Linked DNA regions of Homo sapiens: region 1 is linked to region 2. Evidence: fine-mapped expression QTL. A gene starts in region 2. The other region holds a variant in brackets. All regions are shown on one strand. Distances are between the middles of the regions. Region 1 overlaps TXN (thioredoxin). Region 2 holds the start of C9orf152 (chromosome 9 open reading frame 152).

Region 1 (11,262 bases), 37 kb after region 2:
CCATTGCATTTCAGCCTGGGCGACAGGAGTGCAACTCCGTCTCCAGGAAAAAAATAAAAGAAAGAAAGAAAAAAGCAAGAAGCAAGGGTATAATTATCACAAGAGCCATATGGGGTTATCTCTGGGCAGGTGGAGGAAGAAGGTATGATAGGTATACACTGGGGACTTTTAAGATATTGGCAATGTTCTGTTTCATAACCTGGGCGATCACTACACAGCTAGCCATTTTGTTGATATTTCTAAAATTGTGCATGTGTTTTATATATTCTTCTGTATTTCACAATTAAACATTTTTAGAGAAGTTACATTCATGAAAATGACCTTGAAGTTTCACACTAAAAAATTAGGTAAGATATTTTTGTGGAAGTTTTATACAAATTCAGGAGTTAACAGTCTCTGTAATAGTTTCCATTTGGTTTTTGTGTTAAAATGGTTTAAAGTAAAAATGTCATTTTTTCACTAAGCCACATACAGATGTTCCCAAATCCTTTCCACTGTAACCCAGTGGGGGGTTCAAATATTGTTTTCTTTGTGTGCCATGACATAAAACACATTGCGATGCAGGGAACAAGAGACCACATTATTTCCAAGGCGTTCAAGGCTCCAACCTTCCGTTGCAGCTTCATCTGGTGCTCTGCTTCAAATTCTAGCTGTTGGATTCCTGGCCTTCCTCCAAAGTAACTGCCATGCCATTAAGCTCATGCTTCTTCTGGATGACCACGAACAACTCTAGGGTAGTGTGCTATACCATACATTTTGCAGTATTCATGTAACAGAATACTCTTTTTGCCCCTCCTCTCCCCTCCCCTCCATTGCTGTGCCCTGCCCTCCCCTCCCCTCCCCTCCCCTTGCCTCCCCTTCCTTCCTTGTCTCTTCTCTTCTCTTCTTTTTGAGACAGAGTCTCACTCTGTCGCCTAGGCTGAAGTGCAGTGGTGCAATCTCGGTCTCGGCTCACTGCAACCTCCGCCTCCTGGGTTCAAGCAGTTCTTTTGCCTCAGCCTCCTGAGTAGCTGGGATTACAGGTGCCCACCACCAAGCCCGGCTAATTTTTGTATTTTTAGTAGAGACAGGGTTTCACCATGTTGGTCAGGCTGGTCTCGAACTCCTGACCTCAGGTGATCTCCCCGCCTTGGCCCCCTAAAGTGCTGGGATTACAGGTGTGAGCCACCACACCCAGCCAATATTTGCCTTATTTTAATGACTAGTTAGTCTATATTCTACGGAACTATAAATCCTATATTTACCTTCATTACTTTATGCATTGACAAGTAAAAAGTGCTCACTAATATTTCTAGATTTATTAATATAAGTAATCCACTTTGGGGACAATAGAATTTATGACATTGAATTGTGCTGTGCAGTTACTGAGATTTTTTTTATAAAGTATGATCTTTAGTTAACTCTAATATCTTTACTATTTTAAATAGGTAATAATATATTCAAGTTATAAAGCATCTACTCTAAACACTTGTTCCATAACAAAGCAACAAAGTTTAGCATCTGTGAATTTTTTGGAGGTTGGCAGTAAACAGCTATGAAACGATATGAATGAGAAGAAACACCATGATATTTATGTTCGTCTCTTAAACTGCTTTCGAATCAAGAAATAAAAAGCATCTGTTAACTACCTTCTGCAACAATTAGGATGTTTGCCATCTCATGCTAAGAGACTATCAATGAATTTCATTGTGTTGACCACAATCACTGCCAGAGATGGGTGATCAGCTGGTCACCCATCATCTCCTGGCTATATTGTATATCCCTTAAACTGCTGGTTCTCAACTTTGAATGCACATCAGATAGTGTCCAGGCAACACCCAAGCCCATTTACAGCAAAATCTCTGGGACTGGAATCCCAACATCACTTTTGTTTTTGGAAAGCTCCCTAGTTGATTCTAAGTGCTGCCAAAATTTAGACCCATGCCCTTAACCTGAACAAACCCTCCCTCCCCATCCCTTTCACAGTAACTGCTGGAAGTTTGCTTTGGATCAGGAACCGTTTCTGTATCTTTAATGTGTTCTTGGAACATCAACTCCTTCCTTAACAGAAATATCCTAAGGGCTCCCCCTCCCCTACACTTTACACTCCACATACCCAAGTCAGGAGGTGACTGGATTTTTTGCTTGCCTCCCCACCTAAGGCCCCTTCCAAACCACTTCTCCTTCTTGCAAAATCTCCTACTACTCTGAAACTCATTCATGAAGTTGTACCAACTTCCTACCTTCCTTACTGCTGCCATCTGCTATCAACCTCCTCACTCACTAAAGATGGTTCACCTCACAGACTTCTCTTTCCATCCCTATTCCCATTTTCTTTCCCTGAAACCCATGTATGTTCCTGGCCTCAAATCCTTGACCTGCTGAGTTCCAATCTTCCTCTACCCCACTTCACCTCCTTCTCATGGTCACCCTAGTCTTTGTCTTCTCTGGAAATTTGTTTCTCAAATCTGTTTTTTAAATCTCACTCTGCTTACCACCTCTCATCTTCTTAAAGTTTGCTTGCTCAGTCACTCCCACTGCCAGCCTTCTTTGACCTTGTCAAGACCTCTAATCCTTAGACACTCCTTTTTCTGTGGCTCACCAGCCTCTTCTTGGCTTCTCCTCTCTACTTCTCCAGCCTTGATTCTATACTGCATCAGTATAATCAATCCCTCAAAAGTACTGTCAGCTTCTCTGCATCCCCACTCACTACTGGACTCAACTACAAAGACCCAATCCTGCTCCGGCTTCAACTCTCCACCTTCAGTTGCCTGCACACACAGCAGGGCTCTGAGGTCCTAACAAACCTCATGCAGACACTCAACTACGCCCAGAAACCATGCTTTGCTTTGCCACTGTGAAGATAACAATTTCATACCTTCTCCTCAAAACTGCCTGCTTGGAAAACAGAAACTATCAGATGGAAATGCCATCTTCCCATCCCTAAATCGACAATGCTCTCTAACCTTGCGCTCACTTTCATCCCACTGGTTATGGTGGAGGAAAGACATAACCAACACCAATCTCTCCTATTGTGGTCTGAATCTATTCTTTTTTTTTTTTTTCTAACTTCTAGCTTTATTGAGGCATAATTGACAATAATTGCTTATATTTAAGGTGTACAATGTAATTATTTGATATATGAATGCACTGTGTAGTAATCACATTACTTAACATATCTATCACCACAGTTACCATTTGTGTGTGTGTGTGTGGAGGGTGGGGTGAGCACACTTAAGACCTACTCTTAGCAAATTTCAAGTGAACAATACGGTATTATTAACTATAGTAACCATGGCGCACATTAGCTCCCCAGAACTTATTCATTTTATAACTACAAGTTTGGGCCAGGCACAGTGGCTCATGCCTATAATCCCAGCACTTTGGGAGGCAGAGGTGGCCGGATTGCTTGACAGATATGAGAAGTGTGATTTCTGTTCCCTCCAATCTGGCTTCCTTCCCCATCACTCCATAGGAATTTTGTGTTGCAATCACCAACCTCCATTTTGTTTTCTCAACCTTACCTTTCTTAGCTCCAAGGGAATTTGGTAAATGATACTCCTTCCTTTTTGAAATGTTCTCCTCTGTTCTTCCAGGATAAAACCCTCTTCTGGTTTTTGTCTTTCCCCTCTGGCCACCCTTCAGTCTCCTTTGTTGGTTCCTATTCTACTTGATCTCCAAATATTGAGTCCTTCAGGCTATCTTGAGCCCTCTTCACTCTGGACTCTTCCTGGGTGATGTCATGTTTGTTTATAAGTGCCATCTACATGACAATGTCTTGCAAATTTCTATCCCAGTCCAGACCTGTCCTTGGAGCTCTCAACTAGGTACCCAACAGCCTGCACAGCACCTTCAGTGGGATGTGCACCTCAGAAGCACCCAACTCAGAAGGGCCAGAGACTGACTCCCTCACCACCACCCCTTTCTCCCTCCCATCCTCACCTCACTCATGACATCACATCATACCCCGACACCCAGGGCTTCTGCCAGAAACCTGAGATTCACTCCTGGGTCTTCCTCTCACAGGCCCTTAGGCTTTGTTCCATCTCTGTCACTTCCCCACTGTCCTCCTAGTCACAGCTATCATTATCTCTGATCTAGGTAATTGCAAAAGCCTAACTGGGGCCGGGCACAGTGGCTCACGCCTGTAATCCCAGCACTTTGGGAGGCTGAGGTGGGTGGATCACCTGAGGTCAGGAGTTCGAGACCATCTTGGTCAACATGGTGAAACCTCATCTCTACTAAAAATACAAAAATTAGCTGGGCATGGTGGCGGGTGCCTGTAATCCCAGCTACTCAGGAGGCTGAGGCAGGAGAATGGCTTGACCCTGGGAGGCGGAGGTTGCAGTGAGCTGAGATTGCGCCATTGCACTCCAGCCTGGCTGACAAGAGCGAAACTCCATCTCAAAAAACAAACAAAAAAGCCTAACTGGTTTTCCACTTTTTAGTTTCCGTTTTCTATACAGGTGCCAAAATAACTTGTTAACAAAGCATGTACCCTGACTTACCCTTCGATGGTTTCTCATCCGTTCTAGAACAAATAACGCCCTGGCTGACCTGGCCCTGCCACTCTATCGAGCTTTATTTCATGCTCCTCTGATGATTCTACAAGGTACCAAGCTCTTTCTTGACTCAAGCCTTTGTGTCTGTCATTCTCTCTGCTTGAAAGCTGATTCCCTGGCTCTCAGCAGGTTGGAGTACTTTTTATCCAACAGCTCTGTTTACAGTCACCTCAAAGAACCCAGGTCCAACCACCTGATGCACAGCTGGTTCCCCTATTCTTCTCATTACTGCGCCCAGTTTTTGGTTTTGCCTTGTAGAATATACCAGTCTATTATTCACCTGTTTGTCTCTGCTTCTAGAATGTAAGCTGTATGAGGATGAGGGTGTCTTAGTCACAGCTTTATCCCAAGCCTAGCATGATGCCTGGCACATAACAGGCATTCCATTAGTATTTTGAGAGATCATCTAAGTTTGGCATCCTAATTTCACATGAGGAAAGAAACTCAACTAAGGGCCCATCATTTTCCTGCTTACTCAGATTGTTGCACTGAGGGCAATGTAGTAGTTAAAGGCACATATTCTGGTACCAGACTTCTTTGGTTCAAATCCCAGCTCCTCCAATGACTAGTTGTGATGCTGGGGAAATTACCACCCTTTGTCTGTTTCCTCACAGGTAAATGGGGATTATAGTGTCTATATCTAATAGGATTGTTACAAAGATTAAGTGAATTAATAGAAAGATGATACCTGGCATATGATAATTCTGCTCTTCATTATTATGTAAACTCAAAAAGTTTCTTCAAACCCCCAACCCCTTACTGTGCTTAGAACACAAGAAACAATGTTCTTTGAATGATATAAGTAATAATTTCCCACAACTTTTACCACTCAAGACAGAACCTATGTCTGGCCTATACAACTAGACTTTCTCAGATACTTCGAGGAGAATCAAGATCCGATCCTCGTGGCAAAACAAACAAACAAAACGAACAAGTCCTTCATGAGTGGACATCAATTTTGGTCATGCTGATCTTTTGGAGAGCATAGAGGATTCACCTGCTAAAACAGAGAATGCTATTTTCTCTGTCAAAAGATAACAAATAACAACATACTACTTTATTACCTGCATTGCCCCCAACAAGAGATTTTTGTAGCAATACATTAAGGTAGCAATAATAATTTTTAAAATCTTAAAATAATCAGTGGCCTACAAGGTTACTAAAAAGTGATTGAGAATATAGGAAAATACATTAAATGACCATTTCACATTTATTTTGAAAGCTATTCAGACA[T/C]GAGACGGTTTTAAAAAGTGTTAGCATTAATGTTTTATTGTCACGCAGATGGCAACTGGGTTTATGTCTTCATATTTTATATTTTTGTAAATTAAAAAAATTACAAGTTTTAAATAGCCAATGGCTGGTTATATTTTCAGAAAACATGATTAGACTAATTCATTAATGGTGGCTTCAAGCTTTTCCTTATTGGCTCCAGAAAATTCACCCACCTGTTAAGAGAATATTGAATTGACATTAGACGTAGCACTGTAGCACTGTTTTATACATAAAATATGTATAAATATGTATTTATATATATACATATACATATGTATATATATACATATGTATAAATATGTATTCAGCATAGAATGAAGGAAGAATAGGGGTGGAGGGAAAAAGAAGTATAATCTTATTTAAAGTAAACTTCCCTGAATAACATACAGTTCATTTAAGTTATAAACAAAGAAAAAATATCAAGAGAAAAGTCAAAAGGCTCAAGTACAAATTTTCTTTTACACAATACTTAACAACAAATGAACTGCCCAAGTCTAAGAAATTCTATGTGCTTTATGATATAAATAGGACTAGTTCTAGGAAAGATTGATTTTCAGTTAGCTGTCACATTATGTACTTAAGCCAATGAATTTTGGCATATTTAAAAATTCTTAAAAGCAGAACTTGGTGATATGCCTCAATCTTTAAAGGGAACATCACTCCAGTGATTTATTCACTTATACTGGGTTTCCTATTGCCCAGTTAGAGTTTTAAAGGTCAGATGTACGTACCTTTTGTCCCTTCTTAAAAAACTGGAATGTTGGCATGCATTTGACTTCACACTCTGAAGCAACATCCTGGTAGGGAAAGTAGCAAAGGGAGAGGATTAAATACAAGACTGCGAGTACTGAGCTTTGACAGAAGTAATCCAAAACCAGAAACTTTTCCCTGTCATGTACCCCACATTTCCGCATGAGGACATTTTTCAGCATATGAAAATTAATATAATGAATATAATGGCATTACAAAAGCCAAACCGGTTATATTCTCAATGAAGAAGTTTTATTAATATTTACTTCCTTTGACGGGCACATTAACAGGCAGAATGTTCAGAATGTTACTAGCATCAGATACTCCAGCGATCCAATATGCTCTTTAATCCAATCAAATTTTCAACTATTTTAAGTATCATACAAAGAAGCAACAAAAAATTCTGCTACAATTGGACTCAGTATGATAATCTTAACTATTCCTCAGAACTAGTACCTCTTATTTCTTGCTCATAATTTTTCCAGTTTTATTATGAAGGCAGAGTACACAGAATGATTATATAAAGGCTAAAAAGTCTAAAAAAATAAAAATCAATTGTTCAAGAACAAAATAATAGTAATCTAAAGGAATAACCCCACACTGGGTTTACTGATTATTATTATTTTTGAGACAGGGTCTGGCTGTGTCACCCAGGCTGGATGGAATGCAGGGGCATAGTCTCAGCTCACTGCAATCTCCACTTCCCAGACTCAAGCCATCCTCCCTCCTCAGCCTCCCCAGTAGCTGGGACTACAGGCACACGCCACCACACCTGGCTAATTTTGTGTGTGTGTGTGTATATATATACACACACACACACACTATATATATATATATATATATATATATATATATATATTTTTTTTTTTTTTTTTTTATAGGGACAAGGTCTCTCCATGTTGCCCAGGCTGGTCTCAAACTCATGAGCTCAAGTGATCCACCTTCCTCGGGCTCCCAAAGTGCTAGGATTACAGGTGTGAGCCACCACACTCAGCCTCCTGCTTATTTTTAATTAAAAACTGATTTGTGAGGCCAAGGCCGGTGGGTCACCTGAGGTCAGGAGTTCGAGACTAGCCTGGCTAACACGGAGAAACCCCATCTCTACTAAAAATACAAAAATTAGCCAGGTGTGGTGGCACACATCTGTCATCCCAGCTACTCAGGAGGTTGAGACAGGACAATTGCTTGAACCTGGGAGGCGGAGGTTGCAGTGAGCTGAGATCATGCCACTGTATTCCAGCCTGGGCGACAGAATGAGACTATCTCGGGAGGAAAAATAAAAAGACTTTGTGAATTCTCAAACCTTGCTGCAGTATCAGAATTACCTGAGGGGTACTACAAGTTTCCCCATCAACCCCATCTTAAACCATTACAGTTAAAGTCGGGCTTCAGGTGACTCTGATGCTCTAACCTTTGAAAGCCATCCTACTAAGAAAATCGACAAATTCCTAACATCGCAAATTGGGCTAGTTGATCCGTATTTTCTCCTCTCCTAGAAGTGGCTGTTACCACAGCTAAAGATTTTTCTACAGCTCAAAGGTAATTGAAGTAACACACATTCCTCAACTGTGGAATGCTAAATGAGAACTCTTATAATACCCCATGCTCAACACATTGTTCATGCTATAAGAGGGCAAGGTTTGGAGGACAATACCACGAAACTGGTTTGGTTTGGAGCCCAATAGAGATTGAAAATGTCAGCCAGGCACTCAAAAGAGGACTGGGAAAGAAATATAGAACCACTCAGCACCTAAGCAGCAAAAGCTACACAGGACAGCAAGCGAGCAGGCAGGACTGTTGATAACCAAATCACGGAAACCAACGGAGAATTCTCAAGGGGAAGAAAGGCCAGCTACAAACACTATGACGACCTCTAGGATGGTGGGTGGCACTACTGTTGAGGAGTTCTTTCTAGGTAATCTTTACTTTTTCTTTTAATGCTGGACACCTGCTGAGCATGAAAGTACAGGTTCCAGTAAGAGGCACAAGGACAGTAATGGCTGGAATAAAAATGGTGAATGTTTATTGAATGCATACTATTGAAAACTCACTCCAAGTAAGGGTCAGAGGGAGGTTACCATTTATAAAATAAGTATCATAACCCTGTTGGCTGTCAGAGAAATAAGGTTGGTCTATCATTTTCAAAAGGGCTACTACTCATACTTTTCTATCAATCTATGGAGGCAAAGTTAAAGTTCCTCAGTTTGTCAGAGGGTCACTTCAAGGTTTTAAAAGACACTTTCAGGCCAGGCACGGTAGCTCATGCCTCTAATCCCAGCACTTTGGGAGGCCAAGACGGGTGGATCACTTGAGGTGAGGAGTTCGAGACCAGCCTGGCCAACATGGCAAAATGCTGTCTCTACTAAAAAGTTGAAATTTAGCCTGGTGTGGTAGCGGCTGCCTGTAGTCCCAGCTACTCAGGAGGCTGAGGCAGAAGAATCGCTTGAACCCGGGAGGTGGAGGTTGCAGTGAGCAGAGATGGTACCACTGCACTCCAGCCTGGGTGACAGAGTGAGACTCTGTCTCAAAAAAAAAAAAAAAAAAGATACATTCAGGGTGATCAGGGTGCACCAAGCAGACATGAAGGAGGAGCTCTGTCATACGGAAGTCCTCGAGTGCTTTGCACACCTATAGTAATGCACCATATAACATTTAGATCGACAACAGATTGCATATATGTGGTGGTCCCATAAGATTATAATGAAGTTGAAAAATTCCTCTCACCTAGTGATGGGTTAATGTCATAGCCCATCGCATTAGCTGGTGCAAACAAATCTGCGCTGCAATTACATACAAAGTATACCACTACAGACTGCTTTACCTGCGGAATAGCCATTCTTTTGTTCCTTTACTTTCTTAATAAACTTGCTTTCACTTAAAAAAGCATATCACTACAATTATGGACAGTATATACTACTTGATAATAAACACCCACGTTACTGGTTTTTGTATTTACTTTAATTTCATTATTAATTTAGAGTGTACTCCTACTTATTTTTTTAAAAAGACAGTTACTATACAACAGGCTCAGGCAGGCCCTTCAGGAAGCATTCCAGGAGAAGGCACTGTTATCATAGGAGATGAAAGGTCCATGCATGTTACTGTCCCTGAAGACCTTTCTGTGAGACAAGATGTGGGGATGGGAGACAGTGATACTGATGATCCTGACCCTGTGTTGGTCTAGGCTAATGTATGTGTTTGAATCTTAGTTTGTAACAAAAAGTTTAAAAAGTCTTTTTAAAAAAAGCTTATAGACTAAGGATATAAAGAAAATATTTTTGTAGAGCTGTACAATGCATTCGTGTTTTAAGCTAAGTGTTATTACAAGAGTTAAAGAGTTAAAAAAATAAAAAAACTATAAAGTAAAAAAGTTACAATAAATTTATTGCTGAAAAAAGAAATTTTAAAAATAAAATTTGTAAGCATACAGTGTTTATAACGTCTACAGGTTCTAGGCCTTCACATTCACTCACCACCCACTCACTGACTCGCCCAGAGCACCTCTCAGTCCTGCAAGTCCCGTTTATGGCAAGTACCTTATAAAGGCATACCATTTTTTAATCTTTCATATCATGTTTTCACCATACCTTTTCTATGTTTAGATACACAAATACTTACTGTTGTGTTATAACTGCCTACAGTATTCAGTACAGTAACATGCCTTACCTGTTTGTGGCCTAGGAGCAACAGGCTTTACCACATAGCCTAGGTGTACAGGAGGCTATGCCATCTAGGTTGTGTAAGTACACTCTATGTGTGCACAACAAAATTGCCTAACATTTCTCAGAAAGTATCCTCATCATTAAGTGATGCATGACTGTACTTCCTAAAGGCAGTAAGAAGACCTGTCCTCAGTACAGTATGGTGCATTGGTCTGCCTCAAGAGACTGACTTTACCTTCTGTGCTGCAGTGCCATTACCTGTTCAATGAGGGTGCTAATAAAAAATACTCGTATAGTTATCGTGAGGATTAAATGACATAGTGCATGCAAAGGGCTTATCATGGCATCTGGCACCTATTATTGCTTTCAAATAAAAATCAAGGCCGGGCGTGGTGGATAATCCCAGCACTTTGGGAGGCCGAGGTGGGTGGATCACCTGAAGTCAGGAGTTCGAGACCAGCCTGACCAACATGGTGAAACCCCGTCTCTACTGGGGTTTTAATTTTGTAAAAATACAAAATTAGCCAGGCATGGTGGTGCATGCCTGTAATCCCAGCTACCCAGGAGGCTGAGACAGAGGATTGCTTAAACCCGGGAGGCAGAGGTTGCAGTGAGCCGAGATCATGCCACTGCACTCCACCCCAGGTGACAGAGTGAACTCCATCTCAAAAAAAAAAAAAAAAAAAAAAAAAAAAAAAAAATCAAGTTGCTATCTGATAGGATCAGTGGCAGTTAGAATTTCTCTATTCCAGGTGCAATTTTCCCCTAGCTAAATTGACCTTAATAAGACTAAGTTTGATTAAAACAAGGGATAAGGATTTTTCACAAAAATGCAATTACACTCTTTTTAAAAAAAAAAAAACAACTCTGGGACACATCTAGAATAGTAACTTAACAACCATATCACATTCATCATTCATTCATTCCACACCTATACTACATGCAAGGCAGGTGTGCTAGGTGAAGGGGCAACCAACGTGAATTAAGACAGGGTCTCTGATCCTAGGAATCTACTGAGACTAATGGTAAAGGACAGA
Region 2 (11,262 bases):
AGCACTTAATATGTGCCAGGCATTATTTATTCTAGGTCCTGGGAATACAGCAATGAACATTGAGACAAAACCCACACCTTCCGGGGTGTGTCCTGGTTGAGTAGAGACAAAATTGCATATTTATAATAAAATTTCGGGTGGCAATCAATGCAATGGAAAATCTCAAGCATAATAGAGGGTCAAACACTGAAGTGGAGGAGTAAACTCTGGGAGGAGATAGGGAACTAGCGTTTGGGGCTAAAAGAAAGGCAAGGAACAAGAGCACACACAGACTCACACACATGTGGGTTCACATATTCTCACCAGTGGAAAAGATTATTCTTAACTTACGGGGTTTTGTGTTCTGGGATTCTTTTTGTTTGTTTGTTTGTTTGTTTTTTTGAGACAGAGTCTCACTCTGTTGCCCAGGCTGGAGTACAGTGGTGCAATCTTGGCTCACTGCAACCTCCACCTCCTGGGTTCAAGCGATTCTCCTGCCTCAGCCTCCTGAGTAGCTGGGATTACAAGGCACCTGCCACCATGCCTGACTACTTTTTGTATTTTTAGTAGAGACATGATTTTCACCATGTTGGCCAGGCTGGTCTTGAACTCCTGACCTCAAGTGATCCGCCCGCCTCAGACTCCCAAAGTGTTGGGATTACAGGCGTGAGCCACTGCGCTCGGCTGTGTCCTGGGATTCTGATAGTGAGTTTACCACCCAAGGCAGAAGAGGGAGGAGTTGTGTTTTGAAGCAGCTCCCTTTAGAGAACCAATCATTATCCTTCTCCTAGTCCACAGGCACTGCTCTGGGAGGACATCTGCAGCATTTACGGCTCCTCAGAACTGGCTTTAGGGTGAAAGAGGCAGACCAATGTCTCTTTTCTTTCTTGGGGACTTTTTTTTAAACCACCTAGTGGAATATGACAGTTCATTGTTAACTCTTGGTGGCAGTGAGAGGTATTGGAATGACTGAAAGGCATTTTCCTTATAGAAAGCAGGTGTGTGACCAGCTTGGAGCTCCTCAGAGGTGTCACTTAGGTTCACTTATCTGTTCCGGCACCTGTTATCACAGGAGGCCCTGGAGGTGACAATGTGCAGAGCAAGAGTGGGGAGATGATGTTGGAAGAATAAAGTCAGAAAGAAGCCCCTGAGCTCCAATTCAGGGATCCCAAAGAAACAGAAGACCAGCTGCAGCCATCTCAGCCAACAATTACTCTCCTGTCAACACTAACTCTAGTGTGACTCAAGATTTGTTCCGGCTTTGTAACTGGTTAATTCCTTAGTATTATTTTCCAGCATGAAATGAAGAAAACACTTTTTTTTTTTTTTTTTTTTTGAGATGGAGTCTTGCTCTGTCACCCAGGCTGGAGTGCAATGGCGCGATCTTGGCTCACTGCAACCTCCGCCCTCTGCATCCCGGGTTCAAGCGATTCTCCTGCCTCAGCCTCCCGAGTAGCTGGGTCTATAGGTGCCAGCCACCACGCCCAGCTACTTTTTTTTGTATTTTTAGTAGAGACGGGGTTTCACTGTGTTAGCCAGGATGGTCTCGATTTCCTGACCTTGTGATCCGCCCGCCTCGGCCTCCCAAAGTGCTTGGATTACAGGCGTGAGCCACCGCGGCCAGCCAAAGGAAACTTTTATAAATATCCAACATGTTATGTACTTATTTGAGAACAAGGAAGGAGGGAGACACAATGGGAGAACCTAGAAACTGGTATCCTAGCATTAGTTTAGAAGGAAAGGACTGAAGGTGGACAGGCCTGTTCAGCTGTCAGTCCCAGCCTGTGGTTCAGAGGAAAGGAAAAAGAGTTAGGCTGGGAGATACACAGGGACCCCACCCCAGAGCAGCCTCTGCTGAGAATCACCATGAGCCTTCTGTGGCAGTACCCTGCACATCTTGGGATGGTGCCTGCCCTTCACTGTACAAGAGAAAGAGAATTAGGGTAATTGACTGAAGAGTACAGGGAAATTTCGTATCATGTTTTTTATCTGTTTTGTTTTGGTTTTGGTAAGTCAGGGACTGGAAGGAAATGTACTCGTTATCTATAATACCTTCTTCATTCTCCACCCTTGATTCACTTTGCCAGAAGATACAAGTTGGAGAAGGGGTATTTTGAGCCCCTCCTTGATTTCTCTCTTCAGTGGGGATGAAGGAAGCGGGTGGAGAGAAGAGCGAAGAGAGTGGTAGAGAGACTCAGGGAGGAAAGAAGAATCGAAATTCACCCTAACTGCCTGAGACCTTTGGTGGAACCTCTCTCATCAAGCCAGAGTCAGGAAGACATGAGGTCTGGTCCTGAGTTCACCACTGACTCACTAGGAGACCCTAGGCCTCCATTTCCTCATCTATAAATGGAGATCTTAAAAAGGGAGCTACCTTACAAGGCTGCCAGGAATGTTCAATGAAATGTAATATAAAACATCCAGCCCAGATATAAGTCCCGACCCTAATCCCTTTTTCTACATGAGGCGAGTCACACAGTGTCTGACTGTGACAAAAGCATATTCCTTTTGGACACCAATCACTGGGAGTAATTGGGGCTCCACAGACTTCTGAAAGTAGCTCAAGGTCCCCTGGGTACTTACGTTGCATCAGGGAAGGCACGCTGCTACTTGTAACTGCATTTCCAGAAGCTGGATCCATCGCATAATGCTAAGACAGGGTGAAGAAAGCTAATTTCGGAGCCCTTCCTTTCATTGATCAGCTCCTAGAATTTCTGAGCTTCTAAACGCAACCCAATGTCTTGAGACATTGACTTCTAGCTTTAGTAGGAGCCCAGTCTCAATGCTCACTCTCTCTTCCTGGGTCTTTTTGCTGCACTGGGCACTGAGGATCACGGTCCTCTAAAATCCCTCTACCAGCTTGGCTTCATGACATTAATTGCTCTTGATTTTCTTATACCACTTAAAATATGTTTAATTGTGGTAAAATACATAGAACATAAAATGTACCATCTTAACCATTTTTAAGTGCACAGTTTAGTAGTGTTCAGTACATTCACATTGTGGAACCAATCTCCAGAATTCTTCAGTTTCTCTGACACTCTATAAGCATTAAACAATAACGCCCCACTTCCCCATGCCCCAGCCTCTGGCAACCACCATTCTGCTTTCCTTCTGTCTCTTTAAATATGACTACTCTACATACCTCATGTAAATGGGATTATACAGTATTTGTCTTTTTGGGACTGACTGACTTCACTCAGCATAATGTCCTCAAGTTTTATCCATGTTGTAGTGTATGGCAGAATTTCTTTCCTTTTTATGGCTGAATGATATGCCTGTCCTCAAATTTTGACTGCTCTCTCCATCTTCCCTGGCTTCATTTCCTCCTCTTGTTCCTTAAATATTTGAGTATTCCAGAACTCTAATTTTCATCCCAGTTTCTTATCAATTTACACATGGATTTGCCACAGTTTTATCCATGCCCATGGCTTCAGCTACCATCTATAGATGAATAACCCCAAATCTAGCTCTCCAGCCCAAATGAGATCCAGGCTGGATGGAAGGTCTACAGGCAACTATCTCCAATGCAGTATATTCAAAAACAAGTTCATCTCTCTCTACAAAAAGCCTTTTTCTCCACAAAAAGCCTTTTTCTCCTGTATTCTCAAGGAAAGATACCACCATCTATCCTGTTGCTAAAGTATAGGGGACAATTAATTGCTCTTTTGCCTCCTTAGTGCCATTTTCACCTTATTTTTGTCACCTTACTCTGATTTCTCCCTGGATAATTACCTACTCCTTCACATTCAGTGCTAGTGTTTCAAGTGGCCTTCCTACTTAGATACATGTGACATACGTGATCTTGTCCTCAGCCAGTCAGTGCATAAGGCCTTGATGAGCTTTATACATATTAGTTCATTTTATTCCTACAATAACCCTATGATTTGGGTACTACAGTTATTCCCAATTGACAGGTGAGGAAACTGAGCCCCAGAAAATTTATGTAACTTGTTTAAAGCTGCATATTAAGTAAATGGCAGAGCTGGGACTCAAACTCAGGCTGTGCTCCAAGACCCAGTACATGACCACTCCATTACACAGTATGCTGCCTCTCACAGTTAGATAAAGAATGTGGAACTCAGCCAAGTATGGTGGTTCACGCCCAGCACTTTTGAAGGTCGAGGTGGGTGGATCACCTGAGGTCAGGAGTTCAAGAGCAGCCTGGCCAACATGGTGAAACCCCATCTCTACTAAAAAAAATACAAAAATTAACCGAGCATGGTGGCAGGTGCCTGTAATCCAGCTACTCAGGAGGCTGAGGCAGGGAGAATTGCCTGAACCCGGGAGGCAGAGGTTTCAGTGAGCCGAGATTGCACCCCACTGCACTCCAGCCTGGGCAACAGAGTGAGAATCTGTCTCAAAAAAAAAAAAATGTGGAACTGCAAACTGCTGAAAGTGCCCTGAATGACCCTGACCTAGCTGGGAGGTCAGAAGTCTTCTCGGAGAAAGCCACACCTGGGCACTCCTTGCATGAACCATAATTTAGCACCTAGTAATGATGGGAAAGGGGGTACCGAGTTACCAAGAGCAGGAGAAAGGACGAGCACAGGGTATAGTGAATTCTCTGGGGGCATGTTGAATTTGAGATGTCTTTGGATCATCCCCACTAAGCAATTAGATTTGTGAGTCTGAATTGCAGGTGTATTAAGCATTGTGTTTCCATTTGATAGGGATTTAAATTGATAAATGTTTGTTGAATAACTGAATGAATAAATACCCTCAAGGGTGGGATAGAGCTTTAGGAACCTTTCAGTTTATGCCCTGCAGAGATGGTGACTGTTTGGCTGTGCCAGTTCACTCCTGCCAGGAACGAGGATTCCATTGGTTGGCAACAGCCCAGGTAATGGGAGATGGGCTCCTTCAGCTCAGAGGTGCCACTTTTGTTCCCAAAAGGCAGCACACTTCCTGCCCTAGACAGAGAGGTCCCTCTGGCCCCTGATTCCTGCCCAGTCTGGCCTGGCAAAGGGCAGCCCAAAGAGTCTACTGAACTCTACAAATAACCACAGAATCCCACAGAGCCCAGCTTTGACCTTTCAGGGTATCTTCCCTTCTCCCTCAACCTGTTCCTCTGTTAGAGGAGGAAGGGCTGGGATTTGACATGCCCTTGCTTTCTGAGCCCTGTGCCTCTAACTCCCTCCTGGAATGAAATCTGAGTTCCTAAAGGGAGGAGGTTTCTCCCCATGAGGGGGTTTCTGTGTCCAATCACACCTCCCTGCCTGATGTTTGAGGCTGGATGAGCCTGGGATGCCTCATGGGTCTCTGAGCCCTAGGCGTCCTCTGGCCCAGACAGTTCCCAGGCTGTTGGGAACGCCATGTCTTCTACCTCCAGAGTGAATTTCTCTGGTTTGTAGGAGGTGCCTTAGTTAGACCCAGCCAGGAAGCAGAGCTCCTATCGCCATACCTGGGCTAGCAGGGGGGCCAAGCCTGGCTCACCAGGCTGACCAGTCTAGCAAGATTAGAACATCAGAGCAGAGGCCAGGAACAGTGCTGGCAGCCAGGTGCTTGGCTGAGGCCCCTGGCTCCCTTAGCAGGTGGGACAGCTGAGCAGAGCTGCCCTGAGCCCGCCTCCCCTGCTCTTCCCCACTGGGAGGGAGGGCTGGCAAAGCCCTGGCTCTGCCTCCCTGCAGCTCTGCCACTCAGGTCTCCCATGGTAAGTCTCTCCTTCCCCAGCACCTGTCCATTCCTACCTTTTGGAAGCACCAGGAGGTGGGCCTGGGTCCTCTGCTGCCTCTTCAAGCCTTCATACTGGGCTCGCAGGAACTGGATGCTGAGTGGGGGCCCTTTCCCAGGGGCCTGAGTCCTGGAGCCCTCAGCCATTAAGTGAGACCTAAGCTGCCAGAAGTGGGGCAGGGCTGGGCACGGGCAGGGCAACCCCTCCATCCGGATCCGGGAGAAAAGCAAACACAGCTGGGTGGGGCAGGACCTGGGGAGGGGAGAGAGAGGGAGGGGGCAGTGAGGGAGAAGGAGAAGTGACGGGCAAAAGGAGGGTGGAAAGAGGAGTGGGACTGAGGAAGGAGATAGAAAAATAAGGGGGAAGGAGAAAGATGAAGGGGAAGAGGAGGTAGGGATAGGGAGAAATGTGGGGGAGGAGAAAGGTGGGAGACAGTGGCAGTAAGAGGAGAAGGAAATGTCAGAGGAAAGAAGGGGCAGCGAAGGGGGAAAGACTGGAGGAAGGAGGTGATAGTGACAAGCGGGGATTAATGGGGCGAGAGAAGAAAGAGAGGGAGGAAGATGGAGACAGGCAGGAGGAGGCAGGGAAAGGAGTGATGGGGAGTGGGAGACCGAGAAGTAAGGGGAGGACTGGGGGAGCAAAGAGAAAGGCAAGCCCAGCTGCTCAGAGCCCTTCAGGGGGGTCAAGAAGGTGTCTTATTCCAGGTCCTTCCATTGCTTGATCCTAAAGTTTAGAATCCAATTCCCAGTGCCACGGTGAAGTCTCCCCTTTCCTGGCAGAGCTGGGACTGGGGCTGGGGAGTGCTAAGCTCGCGCTCTGCTCACACATTTTGGACTGGAACGTGGCCACTTTTCAGCAAACCTGCCGGTTGGGTTTGCAGTAGTTCAAAGAACACCCTCGGGAGCTTCACAAGGTCGGTGCCTCTGGATGTGTGCCCCGCGGCCACACCCTAAAGAAACCCAGTAGCAAAGATCTCCCCAAGATCTCCACTCAGACCCCAACACACACCCCAGGTGAAAATTCAGCCCTAAAGTCAGCCATGGGACAGAGCCCAGGGGAATCTTGGCCTCGGGCCAGCCCTACCCCTTGGACATTTGGTGCAGCCTCTGCCGTCTCAGCATTCTCCAACCAAGTGGTAAGTTAGGCATCCCCTCACTCTCTGCTTGCCAGCCTCAACATTTCCACATTGCTTTTGAATCCCAGACCCTCTCCCTCTTACACCAGCTTTGACCTAGCCTTGCTGCATTTGGTCAACTAAGTCCCTTTCTATCTTCTCCTATCACGGTGCTTACTGATTACCCAATTACCCAATATGTCTACAGAGGCAATGGAAACAGAGTAGAGCCTGAACCTACAAGACATTTTGGACATTAACCAGACAAGATCTAGTCATTTGATGTGGGGGAGCCGTGGAAGATGGAGAGCAAATCTTCACTGGGTAGTATATGTTAGTTTTGCTAGGGCTGCCATAACGAAATCCCACAAACTGGATGTCTTAAACAACAAACATTATTGTCTCAGAGTTCTGGAGGTTAGAAGTCCAAAGTCAAGGTGTGAGCAGGGTTGGTTTCTTCTTGGAGCTGTGTGAGAGTATCTGTTCCATGCCTCTCACCTTGCTTCTGATGGTTTGCTAGCAATCTCTGGTATTCTTTGGCTTGCAAAAACATTGCCTAATCTCTGCCTTTATCTTGACATGATGTTCTTCCTTTTTATTTTTTTATTTTATTTTTTTTTTGAGAGGGAGTCTCACTCTGTCGCCCAGGCTGGAGTGCAGTGGCGTAATCTCAGCTCACTGCAAGCTCTGCCTCCCGGGTTCGCATCATTCTCCTGCCTCAGCCTCCCGAGTAGCTGGGACTACAGGCACCCGCCACCGCGCCCAGCTAATTTTTTGTATTTTTCGTAGAGACAGGGTTTCACCGTGGTCTCGATCTCCTGACCTTGTGATCCGCCCGCCTTGGCCTCCCAAAGTGCTGGGATTACAGGCGTGAGCCACCACACCCGGCCTAATATGATGTTCTTCCTATGTGGGTGTCTCTGTGCCCAATTTTCCCCTTTTTATAAGTACAGCAATCACATTGGATTAGAGCTCAATCTGTCTCAAAAAAATACCGAGAGAGATAGCCAAAGCTTCCTCATACCTTTTTATCGGTAGATCACTCTATCATGAAGGCAAGAGCAACCCATCCATGCTGGACCAGCTGCACCTGCCATGAAATCATGGCAGTAGACATCATGGCAGTAGGCTGGCCACAATGGCTCACAACTGTAATCCCAGCACTTTGGGAGGCTGAGGTGGGTGTATTGATTGTGCCCTGGAGTTCAGGACCAGCCTGGGCAACATAGTGAAACTCTGTATCTACAAAAATTAGCCAGGCATGGTGGCACATGCCTGTAGTCCGAGCTACTCGGGTGGCTGAGGTGGGATGATCACTTGAACCCAGAAGCTCGAGGCTGAAATGAGCCATGATTGCACCACTGTACTTCAGCCTGGGTAACAGAGTGAGCTCCTGTCTCAGAAAGAAAAGAGAAGAGAAGAGAAGAGAAGAGAAGAGAAGAGAAGAGAAGAGAAGAGGAGGAGAGAAATAATGGCAGTAGAAATTTCTACTATATTTTCGCATTTACTTGTCAGCCTTCATCTTTTAGTATTAACAGTTTTTGTCTTTTTCTATATGGGTGCGTTTGTGGATATTTTGATGAGAAGTAAATTGAGGCTGTCTACTGCTGATTGAATGCCTTTTAGGAGCTTAAATTCCTTCTTTTAGTTCATATAGTTCCTCTTTCTTTTAAAACTCAAATCTTTAATCCATTTGAAATTTATTTTGGTGTTGTGTTAGGTATAAGGCAAGGATCTAGGGGTTTTTTCCTCCAAATAATTGACCAGTTGTTTCAATAGCACTTACTGAATAAACTTTCCTTTCCTTGGTCTGTGATAACAATAACAATAGTATAAGAAAAAACTGGCAACTCTATCTCATCCCAGGGAGTCTTCAGAAATAAATGAAAAAAGATGATCAAGCCTGGAGTTTGTTCTGGGTGGCTGCCACTAAATGGGTGACTTTCATTATCCAGGTATATCCTTCAGAGGAACTGGAAATAAGCTTCAAAGTTGTTCAGGGCTGGAGACGCTGGAGTAGGAATAAGATGTCTTGTGATTCTAGGGAATATTTTGTTTTTCTGTATATATGTAAACTGTATGGAACATGAAATGTCCCATTCTGGTTGAGAGATAAGACTGTGCTTAATGTAGCAGGTTAGTTCATTACCGGAACCAGCATCCCTACAGCCCTCCCTGGAGCTTCCAGTAAAATAACTTAGACCAGAGGCTCCAGGTCCACTCCTGTCCAGGGGATCCAGCTATTCTGTGAGACTTGAGTGGCAACAGGTATCACTCACAACTGGGGTACCACTCCAGAGAGAATGACTCAGACAATAACCCTGTCCATACAAAGACCAGTCATTGGTGGGTAGAGACTCAGAGACTTGAAGAAGGAATCCCTTAGGGAGCTGGCTTGAGAGCAGCAGGCTGGGTCAGCCCAGTATACAGTGGGGGCAGGACAGGAGTGGTGGATCCTGTTCTTGTGAAGAACTTCAGTTTGGAGTTCTTTCCACTGGAGACTCCAGGAAAACTTGAGTTACCCTGTTCTTTCACTTTTCCTCTCCCCTATAATAAGTTCGCTCTGAGATTATCCCATCCCTGAAGCCTAGTGATCTAGCCTTAGAGAATCAAGAGGGCAAGATTGCAAGGGATGGAGGCTTCCCTGTGCTCTCTTCTCTCTGGTTCCAATGAGGAGGGGACCTTGTCCTATGGAGTGGACTGTGATTTGCAGGTGTATGAATGACAGTGTCCACAGGAGAGCCAAGTATGACGAAGAAGGACTCAGGATGTCAAGAAGTGCTTCAGGGCAGACAGACTAAAAAATTCAAAGCTCTCAGCCTTAAGAGTAAGGGAGATTCCTCTCTGAAAAAAGAGAGGCTAGGCTAGACATATGAAAACAATAGTTATAACCATTGATCTAAAACTGCAGTGGGTCAGATATGTGCTAATCACTCTATGTAAATGATCAATTTTTTCATTATGGTAATATTTGTGTAAATGAAATTGACTATTTTAACAATTTTTCAGTGTACAGTTCAGTGGCATTGCATCCATTCACAGTGCCCTGCAACAATCACCATTATTTCCAGCGTATCCATCATCGCAAACAGAAACTCTGTACCCATTAAATAATGCTCCCCACTTCCCTACATCCCTGGCAACCTCTACTATACTTCCTGTCCCTATGACTTTAGTACCCAACCTAAGTGGAATCATACAATATTTGTAATATATTGGACTGGCTTATTTCACTTAACATGTTGTCAAGGCCCATTCATGTTGTAAACATTCATCAGAACTTCGTTCCTTTTTATGGCTGAATAATATTCCATTGTATGGACAGGCCACAGTTTGTTTACCCATTCATCTGTTGATGGAGATTTGGGTTGTTTCCACCTTTTGGCTATTGGGAATAGTGCTGCTATGAACATTGATATACAAGTGTGTGTTTGCATTCCTGCTGTGAATTCTTTTGGAAAAGCTGGACTATATAATAATTCTATGTTTAGCTTTTTTGAGGAACCTGGACAAAATTAAATTTAATTTCTCATGAGAACACTGTGAGAGAAGAAACATTACTATCCTTTCTCCTTCACCTTTTACACCCAAACCATCTCTAGGCCTGGGAGATACAAGCTCTAAAAGATACCTGAAATCCGGCCAGGTGCGGTGGCTCACACCAGTTATCCCAGCACTTTGGAAGGCCAAGGTGAGTGGATCATCTGAGTCAGGAGTTCAAGACCAGTCTGACCAACATGGTGAAACCCAGTCTCTACTAAAAATACAAAAAATTAGCCAGACGTGGTGGCAGGCACCTGTAATCCCAGCCACTGGGAGGCTGAGGCTGGAGAATCACTTGAACTAGGAGGAAGAAATTGCAAAAAAAAAAAAAAGATACCTGAAATCCATGTATTTCTTTCCACCTCCACTGTCATCCACCTAGCCTATGCTGTCCTCATTTCTTTTTCCAAGACTACTGCAACAGCCTCTTACCTGTCCCCTCCCTCCCACTTCCACACCTGTCCTCTCATCCATTGATCCTTTGACCTCACAGCAGTTAGTGTTCTCCAAAAGACACAAAGCAAATTGGATCTCATGGCTTCTCTCCCAGTTAAATCCTCCAGTGGCCTCCCAATACACTCAAACTCGCATTCAAATCCTTCTTATGGCCCAGGGGGTTGTGCCTGTCTTGGGTCTGTCTCACCTTTCCAGTCTCTGTGTCAACTTTCCCCTTGCTCTCTACTTTCTAGACAAGATTTCCTATAAGTGGGTTCCAGATATGCCTATGACTGAGACCCACAACTCCTGGGCCGGGTGTCTCCAGCCACAAACAGCTTCTGCATTTATTCCAGTGATCTATACAAATAGTGTCATTTTCTAGGTGTGCCATGATGTGAAAGAGGGGAGAAAAGCATTCTCACCGCTTTAGCCTTCTCTGAAGGAATTTCTTGAATTCCACCAATGTCTTTTCCTCCTTGGAGCTTTGGTATGTGCTGTTCTTTGTCTTCTAGAA

Evidence for each region. PIP is the estimated chance that this variant, and not a neighbour inherited with it, causes the effect.
Region 1: its variant is fine-mapped to the expression of C9orf152 in whole blood (GTEx, PIP 0.97). The same link has a PIP of 0.9 or more in monocytes, monocytes after LPS, monocytes after Pam3CSK4 and monocytes after R848.

Annotation. Positions count from the first base shown.
Region 1 is chr9:110,238,234-110,249,495 of GRCh38, forward strand. TXN (thioredoxin) reads right to left here. Exons shown (of 5, transcript NM_003329.4): 4 at 6,545-6,610; 5 at 5,577-5,986. The coding sequence ends at 5,924. Among named protein-coding and RNA genes, the nearest start is that of TXN, 13 kb to the right of the region's middle. The variant T/C (reference allele first, on the strand shown) is at 5,775.
Region 2 is chr9:110,201,718-110,212,979 of GRCh38, forward strand. It overlaps C9orf152 (chromosome 9 open reading frame 152), which reads right to left and starts at 6,442. Exons shown (of 2, transcript NM_001012993.3): 1 at 5,670-6,442. The coding sequence starts at 5,862. RefSeq lists enhancers at 5,111-5,611, 5,612-6,112.